2 linked regions of the Homo sapiens genome follow. The protein of the gene in region 1 interacts with the protein of each later gene in a pairwise test. Each region holds a gene or a part of one and is shown on either strand. Other genes may lie near its edges.

What was found. Proteins that work in one complex are often made in the same cells at the same time.
Region 2: the proteins of SMIM26 (region 1) and AGK interact in binary tests that used the Homo sapiens proteins (3 or more experiments, as listed by UniProt).

What each region holds. Positions count from the first base shown.
Region 1 is NC_000020.11:18,562,815-18,570,789, forward strand, and holds SMIM26 (small integral membrane protein 26), read left to right. Parts: upstream 1-4,617; 5' UTR 4,618-4,664; coding exon 4,665-4,782; intron 4,783-6,421; coding exon 6,422-6,591; 3' UTR 6,592-6,746; downstream 6,747-7,975. UniProt on the Homo sapiens protein: May play a role in cell viability.
Region 2 is NC_000007.14:141,637,779-141,645,675, forward strand, and holds part of AGK (acylglycerol kinase, mitochondrial isoform 1 precursor), read left to right. Parts: intron 1-3,469; coding exon 3,470-3,620; intron 3,621-4,032; coding exon 4,033-4,130; intron 4,131-7,897. UniProt on the Homo sapiens protein: Lipid kinase that can phosphorylate both monoacylglycerol and diacylglycerol to form lysophosphatidic acid (LPA) and phosphatidic acid (PA), respectively. Does not phosphorylate sphingosine. Phosphorylates ceramide.

The DNA of each region.
Region 1 (7,975 bases):
TGAGCCGAGATCGCACCACTGCACTCCCTGGGGGACAGAGCGAGACTGTCTCAAAAAAAATTTTTTTAAAGTGTTACCTCCCCCACCTCTTCCTCTCGTTCTTGCCATGTGGTACATCGGGCTACCTCTTCACCTTCTGCCCTGATTGTAAGCTTCCTGAGGCCTTCACCAGAAGCAGATGCTGGCACCATGCGTCCTGTACAGCCTACAGAACCGTAAGCCATAAGCATAAACCGTAAACCTCTTTTTAAAATAAATTACCCAGTCTCGGGTGTTCCATTACAGAGATCCAAAGACAGACTAACCCACTGGGTCTAAAAAGTATAGGCCCAAGATAATCTCAGAACTTTGGAGTCATTCTTTCATTCGTTCAACAAATAACTATCCGGTACTTGTTGTCTATGGAGTAGTCTTCTAGGCATTGGGAATACTGCCAATAAAACAAAAATTCCTGTTTTCATAGAGCTTATGTGTTAGTTAGGGAAGACCAACAATAACAATGTTAGAAGTAAATGATATGGCCGGGCGTGGTGGCTCATGCCTGTAATCCCAGCACTTTGGGAGGCCGAAGTGGGCGGATCACCTGAGGTCAGGAGTTTGAGACCAGCCTGGCCAACATGGCGAAACCCTTTCTCTATTAAAAATACAAAAATTAGCCAGGCATGGTGGTGCACACCTGTAATCCCAGCTACTTGGGAGGCTGAGGCAGGGACAAATTGTTTGAACCCAGGAGATGGAGGTTGCAGTGAGATTGTGCCACTGCACTCCAGCCTGGGCAACAGAACGAGACTCCGTCTCAAAAAAATAAAAAACAAAAAAGAAATGAAGTAAATGATACATTAGAAGGTAATGAGTGCTATGTAGGAAAATGAAGCTGGAAGCTCCTATTAATTGGATGTTGGAACAGCTGGATTGATTGCAATACTCTGTTTTGAATTTGTATTCGAATACAAGTTATTGTATTTCTTTTTGTCTCTGCCCTACATTCTAGCAGAATTCTAGCAGAGTTTCCTATCTTAAAATGTTGAACATTGGCCAGGTGCGGTGGCTCACACCTGTAATCCTAGCACTTTGGGAGGCTGAGGTGGGCAGATCACTTGAGGTCAGGAGTTCAAAACCAGCCTGGCCAACATGGTGAAACCCCATCTCTACTAAAAATATTAAAAAATTAGCCAGGAGTGGTGGTGGGCACCTGTAATCCCAGCTACTTGGGAAGCTGAGGCAGGAGAATCACTTGAACCTCGGAGGTGGAGGTTGCAGTGAGCTGAGGTCACGCCACTATACTCCAGCCTGGGTGACAGAGGGAGACTTCATCTCAAAAAAAAAAAAAAAAAAAAAAGTTGAACATTTACATTTTTCTGTGCGTTTTCCAAGAATATTTTTAGTTTTGGATATAATTTTTAACACATCATATAGAAGAATACATAAAGTTGTCTGTACAGATTAAGGCCAAAACATCCTCTTTGGCTTTTCTGTTTCAAATTAACAGAAAAAAGACTGTGTGATAGACCCAGCTAACTCTGCGGTTCTCTCTAGTGTCAGTGAGTTAAGGAGCTGAGGGAACTGCATGGTATGACATGGCCATGCAGGTCCCACCTTAGGGTACCAGTGACGTTTTTCCACAGAATGTAGGGGGTGGCAGGGTGATAGTGCTGTGTGGAAAACAGCTATCATGAGAAGGGGCCACTGAGCCCAGTATGCCCAGTGAGGACTCTGAACTCCATCTTTTTATTAATTGTTAATTTTTGTGGGTATTGAACTCCATCTTGAAGGTAGGGCAAGCCTCTGACTTATCTTAGGCAGAGGGTGAAATGATAATTTAAGGTTTGAAAGACACTCCAGAGGGGGAAGGATGAGAGGAGACTGTAATCCAAGTGAGAAATGAGGCCTAAACAGAGACAGGGTATTTAGACAGAGGTGACAGAGGATGTCAGGTGAGATGATTCCAAGTTCCTGGCTTGGGCAATTTCTCAATCACTCTCTGAATCAGGGAAGAGAAAGGGAAGGTTTGTTTCCTGTTGGGAGTGGCATTGATAAATTCAATTCGGAACATTTTTTTAGTTTCAGGAGCTTGTGGAATATGCAGCCGAGGATGCATAGCAGGTTGGCAGTAACATGAATTTGCTTTCAGAGAATCTGGAGTAGATTTGAGAGTTATTAACATATAACATAGGTATCATGAGTAAGGCTGATGAGAAGGATGAGAAGAGACGCAAGCTTGAAACAATACCAATTTTTCTGTTTTGTCTATAACTATTGAGCTATAGTTCACATATAATAAACTGCACCCATTTAAAGCATACAATTGGATAAATCTTGACAGAAACCACCACAATAATCAACATACAGAACATTACCATCACCTCTCAAAGTCTCCTCAGACCCTTTTAGCCCTTCCCTCTCTCCATGCCCTTACTGCAGACAACTACTCATCAGCTTTCTCCCACTGGAGTTTGCTTCTAGAATTTCGTGACTGGTTTCTTTGGTGTCTAGCTTGCTTTTTCACTTAGCATAATCCATTTTGAGATTCATCGTATGGTTGTATTTATCAGTAGTTCTTTTTTTTTTTTTTTTTTTTTTTTTTTGAGAAGGAGTCTCACTCTGTCACCCAGGCTGGAGTGCAGTGGTGTAATCTCGGCTCACCACAACCTCCGCCTCCTGGATTCAAGTAATTCTCCTGTCTCAGCCTCTGGAATAGCTGGGATTACAGGCGCCCGCCACCATGCCCGGCTAATTTTTGTATTTTTAGTGGAGACGAGGTTTCACCATGTTGGCCAGGCTGGTCTCGATCTCCTGACTTGAGGTGACCCACCCATCTTGGCCTCCCAAAGTGCTGGGATTACAGGTGTGAGCCACCCGTACCCAGCCAGTAGTTCCTTTTTATTTGTAAGTGGTATCCCACGTTTTGTTTAGCCATTTACTCGATGGGTATTGGGGGTGGTTTCTATTTTTTCCTATTAAGAATAAAACTATGAACATTCATGTACATGGCTGTGTGCAGACACAGGTTTTCATTTCTCATGGATAACTAGAAACGGAATGCCTGGGTTATATGGTAGGCATATGTTCAACTTTTTAAAAACTAAGTTTTGCAAAGAGATTGTAACATTTTATGTTCCCATCAATAACAGTTCCAATTATTCCAAATCCTTACAGCTCTTGGCATTCTCAATCTGATTTTAGCCATTCTAGTAGGTGTGTAATGGTCTCTTATTGTATTCTTTTAATGTCCATTTCTGTGATGACTAATGATGCTACTGTGCTTATTGGTCATTTGTATATCTTCTTTCGTTCTATTCAAATTTATTGCCTGGTTTTTAGTTGGGCTGTATTTTTATAACTGAGTTGTAAAGCGTCCTCATATATTCTGGATCCAAGTCCTTTTGTTAGATATATGTTATTATGAATATTTTATTCTGTGGCTTGGCTTTTCATTTTCTCAACTGTGACCTTCAAAGAGCAAAAATTTTAATTTTTTTTTAAAAGCCCTATTTATCCATTTTCGCTTTATGCATATATATATAAAATGAGATGGGGTCTCACTATGTTGGCCTTGCTGGTCTGGAACTCTTGGGTTCAAGCAATCCTCCCTGCTCTACCTCCCAAAGTGCTGGGGTTACAGGCATGAGCCACCCCGCTTGGGATGCCTTTTTTATTCTAAGAATTCTGTGCTTATTCCAAGATGGCAAACATATTCTCCTGGTTTTTTTCTAGGCTTATATTAAATAGTTTTAGCTTTTACATTTAAGTCAGCGATCCATTCAGAGTTAAGTTTTTTATCTATTTCTGTAGGGCAGAACATCAGTTTTTAAAGGGTGGGCAAGGTGAAAAGAACCCTGAAGGATACCAGGGAAAATGATGTTTCTGAAGCCATGAAAGGTGCAGGTGGGGTCAGTGGTGGCAAATGCTTTCGAAACCAAGTTTGAGTGTGGCTGAAAAGTACTTAACGTTAATTTACCGGGCCTACCTTGTGCCAAGCACATCACACTTGCTCTTAAGTTGTTCAGTCTATTGAGGGCATCTTGCTTTAAAAAATGTATGCATAAGACAAAAGCTGGAGGTGGTCGGAGTCGAAGGAGATTTTTTGTTTTTGAGACATGGGCACGTTTGTATGAAGGATAAACGTCAATAATGAAGATGGGGGAGGACTTAGGGTGTCAATGAGGGGAAAGGCCACTGAGGCTGGAAAAAATAGTACCCAGAGCCTAGTGGAGGGATTAGCTTTGGCCTGGAAGTATTTAAAGTTCACCCAGAGTTCCGGAAAGAAAAATGGAGGAAAAGAAGAGTTGCGGGGAGAGACAAGCGGTATCCCTGCAAATCTGAAAACTGGAAGAGGAATTGGAAGTAACCTTTTCGGATACCGTCTGGAGCCCACGAAGGCATTACAATTTTGCAAGTGAGAAGCTTCTCCTCTAAGTTGTCATTTAGTCCTCGTCACGTGGTAAAAAGTATCGCACGCCCACAGTTCTACACCCGAAAGTCCGGACACCTGAGCGACTTTCCGGGCCAGAGGCCCCAAGGTGCATCGGGGCAGAGCCGGAAGCGGACGCTGAAAACTGGCGGCTCCTTAATGGTTCCGGCGGCAGGGACCGCAGCGACGCCCTCACCGGAAGTCCCGCCTCTGCCGTGGGCCTGCGAGAATCGAGGCACTCGCTGGCGTACCCATGTATCGAAATGAGTTCACGGCCTGGTACCGGCGGATGTCGGTGGTCTACGGGATCGGCACCTGGTCTGTGTTGGGCTCACTGCTTTACTATAGCCGGACAATGGCGAAGTCGTCAGGTAGGGCTCTTCGGCGGGGCCTGCCCCGGAACACACGGCCTTCGATGAGAGTTCCCCGGGGGTCATGGAAACAACTTCCCTGTCCTTTAAATCCCAGGTTTATTCTGCAAAACTAATTGAAACGGGTGCTAACAGCCGTTTGTTATAATGGAATCTGCAAAGAACTAGACTCCAGGAATTATTAATACCTTGTAAATATTGTTTCCTAAATCTGAATCATTTACTGGATAGGGCCGTCCCCATATTCAGAATTGGAGGAATCTGTGTAAAGTGCAAGGTGGACTTTCAGAGACTCTGGCCGGTGATTTTTAAAGAGTGATGCTTCAGTACTACTGTCCCTCATCGTATATGGCGAGCAATTTCAGTACTTTTAGCAGCCAAGGCGTATTAAAATCTTCCAGTTACTAAGCGCAAAGGGAGAAAAGTCTCTCAGCTTTGAAAAATATGCTGGAAATCTGTAGAGACATTAAGTTGATTAGTGTGGTTGCTAGGGGCTGAGGGGTTGGGGAGTTGGGGAATGACTGCCAAAGGTATGGATTCCTTTTGTGGATGAAAGTATTTTTAAATTGATTGTGGTGCTGGTTGCACAAATCTGAATATACTAAAAACATTAAATTGTATATTTTAAGTGGGTTAATCGTATATGTTAATTATATCTCAGTAAAGTTGTTGTGTAAAAACTATGCTGAAGATTACATTTGGTGATGAAGCTGTCAGTGGCCTGAAAGTACATGTGTCCAGCATTAAGCATTTAAAAACATTTTGGCCGGGTGCAGTGGCTCACGCCTGTAATCCCATAACTTTGGGAGGCCGAGGTGGGAGATTGCTTGAGCCCAGGGGTTCGGGACCAGCCTGGGCAACATGGGGAGACCCCCATCTCTACCAAAAGAAAAAGAAATTTTTATATATAATATTTTATATTTACTTTATATGTAATATATGGTAAAAATACTTTACATTTATATATAAAGTAAAAATATTTTAATGTCCATATTTATGTTTTCTTTCTTTCGTTCTTTTTTTTTTTCTTTTTGACAAGGTCTCACCCTGTCGCCCAGGCTTGAGTGCAGTGGCATGATCTCGGCTCACCACAACCTGCGTCTCCGGGCTCAAGTGATTCTCCTGCCTCAGCCTCCCGAGTAGCTGGGATTGCAGGCGCAGGCCACTGCTGCCCGGCGAATTGTTTTATTTTTTTTTTGAGACAGAGTCTAGCTCTGTCGCCCAGGCTGGAGTGCACTGGCGCTATCTTGGCTCACTGTAACCTCCATCTCCCAACTCAAGCAGTCCTCCTGCCTCATCCTCCCCAGTAGCTGGGGTTATAGGCCCATGCCACCACGCCCAGCTAATTTTTGTATTTTTAGTAGAGATGGGGTTTCACTACGTTGGCGAGGCTGGTCTCAAACACCTGACCTCAGGTGGTCCACCTGCCTCGGCCCCCACAAAGTGAGATTGGGATTACAGGCGTGAGCCACCGCACCCAGCTTTTCTTTTCCCTTCCTTTTCATTCCTTCCTTCATTATTGGGGTTGGAGAGAGTGGATGTAATTCTTACCTTAGTTAATTTCTAAGACTTTAATGACTGCTTTCTAAGTTAATAATTCAGGTGTTCTTTTTTTTTTTTTCTCTTAATGGTGATAAAGTAGACCAAAAGGATGGCTCAGCAAGTGAAGTACCCAGTGAACTCTCTGAACGCCCAAAAGGATTTTATGTGGAAACAGTTGTCACATATAAAGAAGATTTTGTTCCAAATACAGAAAAGATCCTCAACTATTGGAAATCATGGACTGGTGGCCCTGGTACAGAACCATGACTGGCTGCTGAATTCTGAAAACCAGGACTTGGTTCAACATTTAAATTTGATAGTTGCCCTGATTCCCATTTTGGGTTTGTGAAAAGTGTATGTATTTAAATTTGCTGTAAAACATAATCACTAATAATATGCAATAAATATTTTCTTGAAGGAAACTATCTGCGTTTTCTTTTTTTTTTTTTTTTTTGAGACGGAGTCTTGCTGTGTCACCCAGGCTGGAGTGCAGTGGCTCGATCTCGGCTCACTGCAAGCTCCGCCTCCCAGGTTCATGCCATTCTCCTGCCTCAGCCTCCCGAGTAGCTGGGACTAAAGGCGCCTGCCACCATGTCTGGCTAATTTTTTGTGTTTTCAGTGGAGACAGGGTTTCACCGTGTTAGCCAGGATGGTCTCCATCTCCTGACCTTGTGATCCGCCTGCCTCAGCCTCCCAAAGTGCTGGGATTACAGGTGTGAGCCACGGTCCCCGGCCTACTATCTGCATTTTCAAGAGGTGTTCCTCTGTATTTGCATGAGTGAAAGATTGCTGTGAAATTTCACATAGAGCTTCCATAAGCTTGATTTCCTGAAACTAGTTAATGTAGATTTATATTTCTTTCATGTTGCTATTAGGCACAGCTTTAGTGGTCGCTTTAAGGTTAGTTTCAGCAAATCTCCATATTCACTTTGGGATTCACAGTAGCCCTTTGGGTACTACTGCGTACTGGGTAAGTATGATATAAATTTGATTGTAACTTCTGAATTAAACAGACTGGACCTATTCTTTAGGACCAGTGCACATACCCCTCATTCCTTCAGCAAGTGTGGATTACCCACCAACTGTGGCCAGTGCTATTCTAATGCTGGGAATGCAGTCAGGACGACATGATTGATGCTGAACCAGTTTCCTCAGTGGTCTCTTGGTTGCAGGCAACAAACACAAGTGAGCTTAAATCAAAAGTGGGTGTTTATAAAAAACGTGTATTGGTAGCTCAGAATTAAAGCAGAGAGTATGGGCCAGGAGCGGTGGCTCACGCCTGTACTCCCTGCACTTTGGGAGGCCGAGGGGCGGATCACAAGGTCAAGAGATCGAGACCGTCTTGGCCAGCATGGTGAAACCCTGTCTCTATTAAAAATACAAAAATTAGCTGGGCATGGCACCGCGCACCTGTAGTCCCAGCTACTTGGGAGGCTGAGGCAGGAGAATCGCTTGAATCTGGGAGGCGGAGGTTGCAGTGAGCTGAGATCGCACCACTGCACTCCAGCCTGTTGACAGCGAGATTCCATCTCAAAAAAAAAAAAAAAAAGCAGTATGTTGTCTTCAGAAGGCCTGACACTGGGACCAGAATGCAGGCAGCCACTTGTTGAGCCTGCCTGGGCTCTTGGCCTTGCTTTTCTTATTGCACACC
Region 2 (7,897 bases), on another chromosome or scaffold:
TAATACATGTTCCTTGCAAAACATTTGGAAAACATAGCTTCCTTTACCTTTTAAAAAAATTCTGGCTGGATTAAAAAATTAAATGTAAAACCCTAAAATCACTGAACTACTAGAAGTAAATGTATGTGATTTTAAAAATGAACTTTGCAGGGCAAGGTCTTTATATACCAAGGGCAAACTGGATTAGTAAAATCGGTTATTCCTCGAGTTTCATTGGTGGAGTTGTGAGTGCATTTAGGAAGAAATAGAGTAGCTACATATTTAAATGGAATATAAACTGTTGCCACTATTTATTCAGCAAACAATAGTTGACATATGCTTGGGATACAAAGTCAAATGAGACAGGTTTCCTGCCCTCAAGAAGTATTCAGATGCTGGGAGGGAAGTGTAAGTAAATCAGCAGTTTGGCAAGTGCTGTGAGAGAAAGATAGAAAGATTAAGAAGGGAGCAGAGAGGAGGGGCATCTAAATCTAATGAGGGTCAGAAAATCTTCCCAGCAGAGGAGACACACTAAATTTTGAAACATTTAAAGGCTGTGTGAAGTCACAGTGGTGTGACATGGCCCTTAATTATGATTAATGCAGTAAAATGGCAGGAAGTGAAGCCAGTGGGTTAGGTAAGGGCAGGTTATGGCGGGTTTTGATGTGCAATTTGACTTTTATCCTTAAAGCAATGGGGAGTTATTGAGTCTTGAGCAGAGGCATGAAATGAGCAGATTTGCATTTTAGAAAAATTGTTTTTTTCTAAACAGAAAAACAGATAGGATGTAGGTAGCTCAAGGCAAGGACATTAGATAGAAGGTTGTTAAAGTAGTCAGGTGGGAAGTGACGTATAGACTAAGGAGGTAACAGTATTGACAATAGAAGATGGATTAAAGAACTCTTAAGTTAGAACCTCAAAAGTCAGAAGAATGTAGGATTATCAGATTTCTGGTATGAGGGACTAGAGTTTGGTAACTGGAGTTTTCCACTGATGTTGGTAATACTAGAGTAAATCAAGTTTGTGAAGAGAGATGAAATTTTCAGTTTAATCTATGTAGAGTTTAACATACCTGTGGTACAGACAAGCAAAGATACAATTGTGATTTAGGTCGGAATTCAGCAGAGAGGTCTGGACTAAAGAAACAGATTCAAATGTCATAAGTGTGTGAGCGGTGTTGAAACCATGGGTTGGGTGAAATTACCATTGAGTACAGATGGCCAGGAATATCCCTAAGGGACATAAACATTTAAAGAACCACCAAAAATGACTGAGAAGTGCTAAGAGAAAATGCAGGAGAGAATACTAACATAGAAGCCAATAGAAGAGAGAATTTCAAGAAAAAAGTAAGAGTTTCGAGAAGCAAAAGCAAAGACTTTAAATATACAGACAAGAGAGTATCCATCGAATTTGGCAGCCTCCAAAAGCTGGGCAGCCTCCAAAGTGTGGTGGCTGAAGCCAGACTGAAGAAAGTCAAGAAATAAAAGTGATGTAAAGAAGTGGAGACAGCAAGGACACGCTACTCCTTCAAGAAACCTGACTTTGAAGAGAAGGAGATAGGGAAGGCAAAAGCTGAGAGAAACATGGGGTCAATATGGAATTTTTAAAAGTGGAGAATATCCATGTGTTTCTAGACTGAAGAAAAAGAAAAGAATGTGAGGAGGTGAGAAGGGAGACAGAAAGCATGACTGAATTGGCAAAATCCAAGAGCGGGTAGAAGGGCGTGGGATCCAGAGTACTGGATTGTCCCTGGACAGGACAAGGGGCACCTTTTTTCATTGATACAGAAGAGGAGTAAAGGGTAGGTCCAGATGAAAATGAGATTAGAGAAAGTTAAGGTATTCTCACTGATGTCCCTGATATTCTCACTGAAGTGTAGGAAGCAAAGTGATCCTGTCAGAAAGGTGGTGAGTAGTGGTATGGGGTATCCTGAAGAAAGATGAATGTAGGAGGAGGCTTAGGATTATCAAGTAGCACTGAAGACCTGAGGCTAACAATTTGTAGACATGAATGCTCCTTTGGGTGACTGCTTTTCCCTGTATTAATACTCAGCAGGAGTATCATTTTCTTCTCTAGTAATACTGAGCCATGATGTAAGAGTACAGGAACTTAATGACAAGGCTGATCCAGAACTGGGGCTTTTTAGGACATATTGTAGAAGAATAAAGACACAGGAAAGCCAAGAGTAAGTGGAAAAAGAAAGCACTTGAAAGTAATTGACTATCAGTTTGGCACTGAGGGGAAAATGAGTGGTCAGGGAGTAGAATCCTCAATGTGATTGAAAACTTGGTGCAGTTAGGTCTTCAGGGGCCCACAATAAAACCCCTCTCTTCCTCTTTTTAGTTTGAACCAAGGTATGAAAACAAATGCAGGAACTAGGCAGATGAAGATCAAAACGTCATCTTTATAAATGTCAGCAGGAGTGGAGGACAGAGCACAGATACGTGGTCTCTATCTGATCTCCTAATACTGTGAACAAAGGTGTCCATTGAAACAGCTCCTTCAGGGCAGAGACCACCACAAGAAGCTAATTTTCACCACATGAAAATTAGAAGCAGTGACCGTTTGAGACAAGGACAGCTGCTGTCAGAGAGAAAGGAAAGGGCTGGATCCATGCATTGGTCCTTCTAGACTTGGGGAGGAGTGAGTAAGCAGTGGAGTGAGAGAAGCCAGTGTTGCTACTGCTTTGTAATTCACCACCTGGAAACTTGAGAACAGGGAAGCATTTCACCCTAAGAGACACAATGGGCACAAAAGAATCAACCAGAAGAATATGGGATGTGATTAGAGAGCAGGATCTCAGGGTTTTAGATTTCCAAAGTGGAATAGTTCTGGGTGACATTAGGGGCCAGGATGTGGCCATGGAAATGGGTGGATGTGGTGAATCAGAGGTGATGTCAAGGGCTGAGAGGCTGGGGTATGGTTTTATTCATTCATGCGGTCAGGATGTGATCCAGGGTGACACTGGACTTGGGATGCCAGGACATAGAAGACAAAAAAAATTAGAGTGTGAGGGTGATGGGCTTTGAAGCAGAAGTGAGAAGCCTTGGGCTGGATTGTGAGCCTGGGCTAAACCATTCTGGCCTGTGTGTGGAATAAGATTCCAGAAGTGAGGTAGGTACTTGATGCAACTGGATTTCCTCAGTTTCATTTTGCATCACCATCTGTAAGCCAAAGATAAATTTATTACGGATGACCCTATGTTCATTCACCCTCTTTTTGGACAAATGTAAATGGTGGTGGTTAGCCAATTTTAGGGGGAGCAATGGAGGCAGTACTTGCTGAATTCATGGTTTTTAAGATGTAGCTTTAAGAGGAAAAGAAAGCTTGAGGATTCCATGCTCCAAACTAGCATTCCATCCAGTGAGAGGAGATTATTAGTTCACTTTCTAGCAGGTATAGGTAGACAAATAAATAACTTTTGCAGAGAGAAACTCCCAGAGTGGAATTGTACATGCATAACAAAATTTTTCTCTCTCCACATTAAAAGGAGTGGCCTCAGACTCATCAAGCCTCTATCTCATACACGGGACCTACAGAGAGACCTCCCAATGAACCAGAGGAGACCCCTGTACAAAGGCCTTCTTTGTACAGGAGAATATTACGAAGGCTTGCGTCCTACTGGGCACAACCACAGGATGGTGAGCAATGTGGCGACTAAAGATTGGAGGGCCCTGGTCAGTTTAGAAGTGCCCTAAAGTAGACCTCCAAAATCAGTTTTAGAGACTTAACTAGAGCAGGAGAAGCCTCTCAGGGATCACTGAATTCATCCTTCTGTGTGCCACCAGAGCAGGCCCAAGCAATGTGCCATCAATGGGCATAGCAGTCTCTGTGCACAGTCTTTCTGTTAACGTGACTGCTTTTGGTAGTGATGTTTTAGGCACAGAGATGCCATTTTTACCTCTATGTATAAGAAGCATGAAATAAATAAAATGAAGGCAGAGTCAGCAGAAAGGTTGAGAAGCTGAGCTGAGCAGCTAGCAGCTAGCCGTCCGTGGTGGGTGGTGAAATGTTAATGGAAGAAACTGACCTGTATCTAATGGATTCCCACAGCCCTTTCCCAAGAGGTGAGCCCGGAGGTCTGGAAAGATGTGCAGCTGTCCACCATTGAACTGTCCATCACAACACGGAATAATCAGCTTGACCCGACAGTAAGTGTGCTTTTTTATTAGAAAAGCATTTGGTACCTAAGAAAAGTGACAATAGCTATAGTCCTCTCCCACTAATTCAGTTATTTTTATTTTTACCCTGTGGAGATAGAGAGGGCAGTGTCAGGAGAAAGAGGATGTGGTGTGCCTTTAAGGAATAACAGCAATGAGGAGAAGCTGCCACCTGCAGGAGTGGCATAAATGCTTCTGGGGCTCTGATTACATGTTCTGCTCATTGCTTAATTGGCATTCAGAGAACTTAGGGCAAGAGGGCTTTAGAAATGAAAATTAGCTATTCCCATTTGTCACTGGAAAAAAATTGTGGAACTTTTAGTTGAGTAAATATCCACGATTTTTGTGACTGTACTAAATATGTCAAATTAGATCCTCAGGAGAAAAATACCCACACACATACATCTGTATCTATATCTACATATTATTTATTTAGGCCCAATCTATAGGTATGCACTATCCCATACGGTAGCTATTAGCCACATGTGGCTAGTTAAATTTAAATTAATTAGAATTAAATAAAATTCAAAACTTAGTTCCTAAGTCACACTCACCACATTTCAAGTGCTCAACAGCCATATGTAGCTAGTAGCCATCATACTGGAAAGCACAGGTATACAGCCTGTCCGTCAGTGCAGAAGGTTCTGTTGGGTGGTGCTACTATAGACAACACACCCAAAAGTATTGAAATAAAGCAGGCATTGGCAAACTGGTCTGCCACCTGTTTTTATATAGCCCAGAAGCCAAGAATCTTCTAATTTTAAATGATGCAAAGAAAATCAAAAGAATAATTTTTGTGAACAGAAAAATACGTAAAGTTCAAGTTTCAGTATCCATAAATAAAGTTTTATTGGAGCACAGCCATATTCATTCACAAATATATTGTCTGTGGCTGCCTTTGTGCTACAGGGGAGAGCTGAGTAGTTGTGACAGATTGTATGGCCCAAAGCCTAAAATGTTTATTATCTGGTCACTTACAGAAAAAGTTTACTGACCCTAGTATAGAGAAAACCTTGGTAATTTATATCAATGAGAATGCCAATAGGAAAGTAATTGTTAACTGTGGACTAATTACATTCAGCTTGTATGCAAATTAGTCTGTTCACAGTTGTCTAGGCCAGTCTGAAAATTAGCAGATGGAGTTGGAATGTCGTGAAAAGTTTGATTCCAATATTAATAGAGTGATAAGTTTGATTCTAATATTAATGTTCAGAGTATTGAGATGTTTTCTAACTATGAAAATAATACATGTCCATTGCAAAACATTTGGAAAACATAGCTCCCTTCACCCTATAAAAAAAATTCTAGTTTGATTAAAGAACTAAATGTAAAATAATAAAATCATTAAAGTAGTAGGGTAAATGGCACACGTTTATACCTATGTAACAAGGCTGCGCCTCCTGTGTATGTATCCCGGAACTTAAAATAGAAGTTTGAAGTTAAAAAAAAGTATTAGGGTAAAATCTAAGTGATTATCAGTATAAAATTAAGGAGGACAAGGCCTCTCTAAGCATGACATTTAAGGCAAAAATCATATTGATGCATTTGTCTTTTTATTTAAAAAGACATTCTAAACAAACTTTTAAATGACATATTGGGAAAAATATTAGCATGTGATAGACCAGGAATTCACTTTCCTTTTAACAAGCTCTTAGGATAAAGCAATGAGAAATGGGCAAAGGACTAATATAAAAAGTGAGCAAGGGGTAAGAATAGAAAATTCATAAAAGAAATAAGCATATGAAAAAATAGCTTATATTTGCTGATTATTTACTACATGTGAGGCACCTGTCCTAAGAATTTTACATAATATTATGTAATCCTTATAGGTAGATATCTTTATCTGCATTTTGTAGGTAAGGAGACAGAGTGATTTCAGCAAAGAAATGCAAATTAAAATAGTAAGATTGAATTGTCATGACTAAAAAGCATGTTATAGATTAAAAGCTTAGTGGTGGTGTGTGTTTCTGATGGGAATATAGATTGGAACATCCTGTCTCAGCAATTTGGCATAGTATACATAAAGTGTCTAAAATATATGCATACCTTCTGCCCTATTAACTGTATTTCTAGGAATTTATCCTACTGGAATAACCTGATGAATATATAATGTAGGCAGTCCTTTTTTACATAATGGAAATCTGAAAAACACTGGTGAAAGTGGATATGTGAATGCTAAAAAAAAAAAAATAGATTCTGTTCCAGAGGAATTTAAAAGAGAAAGATAAAATGTCTAATTATACATCTCCTTTATACCAAGTCTTTAATAATATGTATTCCGAGTATTTTATTCATGTTCTTTACCATTGTTCTTTTCTCTGATGACTGAGTACCACTGAATGGATTGAGTTCAGTGAGTATGTGAGTGCGCTCAAGATTAGCCACACTCACAATGCCAAGTGCTTTTTATCTTTGTGCCTATTTAAAAGTATACGATACTGTGCCGCTTATCACTAGTAGCAGCAAATTCATTTGTTTCGTTTTTGCACAGTTCTTTATAAAAATAAAAGCAAATGCAATACAATAAAGGCAGTGTAGCTGCCGTGTAATAGCTCAAAATGTTCACTTATTAAAAGCAGCACATTCAGTGTATGAAAGAAGCTGTAGGAGTATAGAATGTGTGAAAATTAGGATCTCTTATACAACTATGCTCACTGTATAATAGTAAAATATTTGCAATGAACTAATCAGACTGAATAAATTTTGGTACATTTATTAAAAGTCATATCTATTTTATATATGTATTATTTTCTATCTATTGACATGGGAAAAATAGGTGAAAAGATTTGCAACATAGTTCCATTTTTCTTTAAAAAGGAAATACCCCCACTTATAAGTGAGTTTTGTGAATGATGGAGGTAAAGCTCCAATTTTATGTTCTTTCCAAATAGAAAGCCAGTTGTCCAAGCGCCATTTATTGAAATCTCCATTTTCCCCCATTGATCTTCAATAAACCTCTGCCATACATCATGTCTATATACATGTAAATGTTTCTAGTCTCTTTCTTCTATTGTTGTTCCATTTTCTCATATTTATACTAATACTCTGCTTCTCTTATTATAGTTTTATAATAAGTTCTATGTTTTTCTCTTTTTACACAGTCTCTTGGCTATTCTTAGCTCATTTGAGTTCTATAAATATTTTAGAATGTTTATTTTATTAAATTCCACATAAAAATGTTATAATATTGATCTCACTGCATTGTACCCATAGATCAATTTGGAGAGAAATGACATTTCTACAATATTGACTCCTCTAGCATATGAACGGGGTATATCTCTTCATTTATTTAGGTCTTCAATGTCTTTCAATGAAGTTTTATAGTTTTCTCTGGAATATCCTGTCTTTTGCTGGATATATTCCCAGTTATCTTAATTTTTATGCTATTCTAAATAATATCTATTAAAATTTCATTTTCTACCTGATTTAGTAGATGGACATATAATTGATTTTTATATCAATGCTGAATCAGCAACCTAATTAAATTATTATTAATTATTCTAACTTTCTTTCAATGAATTCTTTCAAATTTTCTACAGATTTAGTCATGGCCAATGCAAATAGTGCAAGGTTTGTTTTCTCTCTTCAAATACTTATCCTTACAATCCTTCATTTTACTTAGAGCACTGGATAGGACCTCAGTACATGGTTAAATAGAAGTAGCAGTAACAGGAGTCCCCATCGTCTTTCTTATTTCTGATTTAGAGAGAAAGTCTTCATTGCTTCATGCTTGTATTTAATGTGCTTTCTTTTTTTAT